Regions from separate parts of the Homo sapiens genome. Here region 1 is linked to region 2. The links come from fine-mapping of genetic effects on gene expression. A gene starts in region 2. The other region holds a variant in brackets. All regions are shown on one strand. Distances are from middle to middle.

What was found.
Region 1: its variant is fine-mapped to the expression of ANG in whole blood (INTERVAL, PIP above 0.99).

What each region holds. Positions count from the first base shown.
Region 1 is chr14:20,708,759-20,711,560 of GRCh38, reverse strand. It overlaps LOC124903282 (a long non-coding RNA gene), which reads left to right. Exons shown (of 2, transcript XR_007064061.1): 2 at 1-1,768. Among named protein-coding and RNA genes, the nearest start is that of EGILA, 3.2 kb to the right of the region's middle. The variant G/C (reference allele first, on the strand shown) is at 1,333.
Region 2 is chr14:20,687,250-20,690,051 of GRCh38, reverse strand. It overlaps ANG (angiogenin), which reads right to left and starts at 1,288. Exons shown (of 2, transcript NM_001097577.3): 1 at 1,178-1,288. The region is part of intron 1 of RNASE4 (ribonuclease A family member 4); the gene reads right to left.

The DNA of each region.
Region 1 (2,802 bases), 22 kb before region 2:
TTCACAGAAGGAGGACAACGCCAGGCCAGGTATGCTCCAGTGACCCTAGACAAAGTAGTAGAAGCCTATGTCCCCGCTGCTGGTACTTCAGCACAAAAAGCTGAATGGATTGCTCTCATCAGGGCCTTAAAACAGTCTCAAGAGAAATGGGTAAACATTTACACCTACTCCAAGTATGCCTTCTTGGTAGTGTATGCCCGTGGGGTCATTCAGAAAGAAAGGGGATTCTTAACCTCAAGAAATAAAGACATTAAACACCTGCTGGAAATTTTAGCTTTGTCAGAGGCAGTTGTTCTGCCAACTCAAGTTGCTATTATGCACTGCCAAGGCCACCAAAAGGATGACTCCCCAATAACCAAAGGGAATCAAGTGGCTGATAAAGCTGCAAAGCAGGCCACTCAAGAAACATATTTACTTGGGACCTTAATACTCCATTTAAACTTGTCAGAATTTAAACTCCACTACACTGAATGAAATGAAGAATGCACACATGAGTGGACATTGACCAACACAGACCCTTGTTCCTCATGGAAAGCTAACACTCATGGGATATTACTCTCTGAGGCCCTGGTATACCCAGTCCTGAAAGACCTGCATGAGGGGACACACTATGGCAGAGATGGACTGGCTCACCTGGTGTAGCCATATCTCAAAGGGCCACACCTTCAAAAGATCATTCAAAAGATTATACAAGCATGTTATCTATATACCCCAAATGATTCAAGAACTGCATGCAACTCTTCCCAGAGGAGGATACAATACAAAGGAATATGACCATTCGAGGACTGGCAGGTTGATTTCACCCAGATGCCAAAAACACTGGGATTTATAAGTACCTACTAGTGTTTGTAGACACATTTTCTGGAAAGGTTGAAGCTTACCCGAGCAAGAGATTGAAGCCTATCCGAACAAGTCTGAGAAAGCTGCAGAAGTAGCTAAGGCTCTGCTAAAAGAAATCATTCCTCGATTTGGACTTCCTTACTCCATACCAAGCAACAATAATCCTTCTTTAATTTCTGAGATCACACAAAGGATAAGCCAAGCATTACAGATCAAATGGAAATGACACTCTTGTTGGAGGCCACAATCAACTGGAAAGACTGAAAAGATGATCCACATGCTAAAAAACAAAAACAAAAACAAAAACAAAACAAAACAAACAAACAAAAAAACCAAAAAAAACCCCTGGCAAAACTCTATCGGGAAACAGATTTAAAATGGTAAAGGGTTTTACCTATTGCCCTGCTATGGATTGGGGTAGCACCCTGAAGTGGGCTTAAATTAAGCCTTTTTGAAATTGTGTGTGGGAGACCCTTCTGAAGTTCTTGGCCA[G/C]GGACCCCACCCTTGGACTTAATAAATTAATCAAGAATTAAACAATATGTACAACAACTAAGACATAAATCACTAACCCTGCACAAGTTTGTTCTTTTTGTTCTTTCCAGTTTTATGTGTCTTACAAAAAAGCCCCTTCACCCTTTTCATCCAAGGATAAAGTGCCGCTAAAATCTTGGTAAAAACAAGGACTGGACCAACAACAGCCAGCCAAAAAGTGGACAGGTCATTATGATGTTTTATTAACTACTCATTCATCTGTTAAGCTGGCTGGAGTCAAACCACGCATACATCACATTTCGGTAAAAATCGCCCCTCCCCAACCTGACACAGCAGACAATCAACCTGGTTGGACTTGTGAGCCAACTGGAGAACTGAAGCTACTGCTTAAGAAAAATCTTTTTGTACTATAGGATTAAATTTCTGTTATTCTTTATCATAATGAGTAAACTTTTTTGACATCTGCTAAAACTAGTCTATTTCTACAGTGGGCATAACATTATGCAGATAGTCTACACTAAGATGCTTGCTGGGTATGTGGATTGCTACCCATCTCTAGCACTTCTGGGCTACTTTAGTGAGTATCACCCCTGCAGGGGACTGATTAGATACATTTACAAACGTATATGAAAAACTGTTCATGGGAAAATCAGGACCTTGGTAACTTAAGGTAATATTTTTTAAAAATGGCCTGGCATTAATATAACGCTTCAGAATCCAGATCCTGGAAAACTCTTCATTATAACCGGACTATCCAAAGGACCTCTGAGTATGCAATCCCTCTCTTAAAGGAGTTTTCCTAGATGGCCCCCAAGATTTTGGCTACTAATAACCATTACACGGTAGGTGAGTTTTTATCAAATTTGGGACGATTACCTCTGGATGATCTCCACTATTAGTCACTTAACCCAAATTGCCACTTCATGTTGGGAACAAAGGAATCACTCTTAGAATCATTGGCCGAATGTTACTAAAAATGTGGATAGGATGCCTCTACATCAATATGAACATTCTTTAGTGCTATATTAGACAAACCTGTTTACCACTGATTGGACACAGACCCAAAATTTGGTGGCTGGTCCCCAGTGGAACTCAATAGTTATGTGAAACTAATCTTCGGCCATGTCTACCTGATGGATGGATAGGGCAGTGCACGTTAGGACCCCCATAGGTCCGGGGCTGATTAACAAAAACCACCAGGCAGCCTGCACACTTTCCAGATGTGTTACACCAATGGACCAGGCCGGTTTTCCCTTCCTACGACCATCTCCTGTCCCTTGTTTTCCCCCAAGCAGGCTTAGAAAGCATCATCTGGCATATTGAGGCACTTACAAATTATAGCAAGTGCTGAAAGACACATTTAAGGGCATCTCATTAGTAACCTCTGAAATGACTATGATGGGAAAAGTAGTCTTGCAAAACCACATGGCCCTTGATGTACTCACAGCTGCTGGGAGGGACCTTGACCCA
Region 2 (2,802 bases):
AGTAGAGACGGGGTTTCACCTTGTTAGCCAGGATGGTCTCGATCTCCTGACCTCATGATCCACCCGCCTCGGCCTCCCAAAGTGCTGGGATTACAGGCGTGAGCCACCGCGCCCGGCCTGTTTTTTTTTTTTTTTTGAGACAGAGTCTTGTTCTATCGCCCAGGCTAGATCGCAGTGGTGCTATCTTGGCTCACTGCAACCTCCACCTCCCAGGTTCAGGCAATTCTCCTGCCTCAGCCTCCCAAGTAGCTGGGATTACAGGCGGCCACCACCACGCTTGGCTAATTTTGTGTATTTGGTAGAGACGGGGTTTCGCCATGTCGGCCAGGCTGGTCTCGAACTCCTGACCTCAGTTGATCCGGCTACCTCGGCTTCCCAAAGTGCGGGGATTACAGGTGTGAGCCACCACACCTGGCCCCAACTGTTCTTTAGAGTAACTTTATCTTCTGTATCAAATGAATCTGTTAGTATTCACAAGAATTATTCTCTCCCTCTCCCCACAGGCAATGTTCAGTATTCAAAAGATTCATCAAATTTTACACACCAGGGAGTTAACTTGACAGTTTATGATGAGTAACTATAGTTATCATTTTCATCAATGTGGCTTCACACTTTTATACATCCTAGGGCAAAATCCCCCAAAGTAAGAGCCTAACACCCAAGGCATATTCATCCCTTTATTGCTTTTCCTTCCTTCTTCCCTTCAACCTGCCAGTGAGCCTTCTTTTGATCTTGGGATGTGTTCCACTTTGTTTGAAAGAGCATCCAAAACTTTTCTAAGAAGAGAAATTAGCAGGGAAGGTTAGAAGGAAACAATGCTAAAAACATACTGTTTCTTTCCTTGTTAAGCCACGTGTAATGCCTGTAACAGGGGTGGACGACGGGGGAGGACTCCCGATGGCCTTCAGCAAATGGCTCCCCCAGGCCTTTGGGGATTTTATCACAATTTAGAAATCCCTCCTAAACTTCCACTTCCTCCCAGTCTCACTAATTTCTCTTTATCCACACATAGGCCATCCCAAAAGAAACCTGTTTTCATTTTAAACTTTAGAATCTGATCCATTTTCTTTTTAATTCATGAGCTTGAGCCTGGAGGCTTTAAAGGGAGGAAAATGGTTTCATTAAAATGGATGGATGGCTAGAAATAATATATAAAACAAATTGAACAATAGTTTACCCAGGAGGAAGAATCTTACAAAAATCTGGCAGTTTCCCTTCAACGGGAGATGGGTTCCAGCTGTTTGTTCCTGGAGATGGGTTCCAGTTGTGTGAACCTGGAGGCCTCTCCAGGTTCTGATTATATAGTGTTCCTAATATATAGTGTCCCAGTCCTGGCAGGGACATGAAAACCAAGGACACTGCTCTTGAACAAACGAGGAGGGTCATTCACCTTTTCGCTGGGCATGATTGGGTTAGATATTAACCCACCTGAATGGATTAGAGATTTGTTCTGGAAGACAAAGTTTGAGAAACATGGCCTTCTGTCCAAAAGTTGCCCTTTTCTGCTGTCTGTGGTGCTTACTCTTGTTCATGGCAGGACTGAGGTTTCCCTATTCACACATAATAGTCTGGATCCATAAGATAGCATCTCTGATCTCCCTGGGCCAACTCCAAGAACTGCCTTGGAAGATGTCACAGAGTAAGATATGGTCTTCCAGTAGGATGCTTTTCCACTGTACTATTTATCATTTATCATATCACATCCTATTTATCGTATCACATCATTTGGTTTCATGAACGGATGCTAAGCACGTTATTCCATCGATTTCATACAGCCAGGAAAGCACTTCCAGAGAAGGTTGTGTGACAGCTATTAGTACACTGCCCCTCCCCCTACACTCAACTTCTCAGCTTCTAACCCCCAGAAGCAGGCTTGCCATGTTTCCTGGGTTTCTCCTTCTTCCATCTTTACCTGTCCACAAGAGACTAACCCTGAACATTCAATCTTCTGATCCTTGTAATGTAGTTGCAAAATTGCTTATCTCCATCATCAAAGCAGGGCTGTAGATCCATTGCTTGCGTAAAAACAGTGGGCCAAAGGTCACCAGGATCACCTTATAGATCTCATAGTTTCCAATATCAGACAGCAGCAGGGTACCAACTGTTTCACAGACCCCCAGCATTTGCCCACAGTGGTGTTGGATCTAGGACAGTGTTATCTTTTTAAAAATCCTCAATCCTCTGTTGTCACCCACCTAGCTGCCAAGTATTCAGTCTGGCTGCACTTGAGAAGGTGTCAAGAAAAGACAGGCTGCCTGCTAGTAAAACAAATGCACTTGAAATCACAATAATTATAATATTCAGTGCAATCTTTCATTTTGTGAAGCTCTCACATACATGACTACATTCAACCAACACCAGGACTGTGTGAGGTAGGCATTATGTAAATATGCTCTGCTCATGAGGAAACTCCAAGAACAAACAGCAGATGAATGGTGGAGTCAGACTTTGAACCCTTCATAAGCAAGGAGAAAACTGACCTGTCTTTCCAGGCTTAGCTCAAGCAACACCACCTCTGAGTCCCGAAAAGCGGTACCCTGCCACAGCATACAACCCATATGCGCCTGCACACACACAGCCCCATGGCCTGAAGCACCAATTCAAGCACCGACTCACACAAACAGAGCAGCCTCTGATTTTAGAGTTCTGCAGTAGTGCTGAGGTGGGGCAACCAGCAGCCTCTGAATATAGTTAGGTCCCTTCTCTGCCTCTGGGCCTTCACTGGACAACCTTTGGAGGATACACAATCTGCCCACAATGCAAAAAGACAGTTTTATGTTTTTCTTTTAAACTTGGCACAAG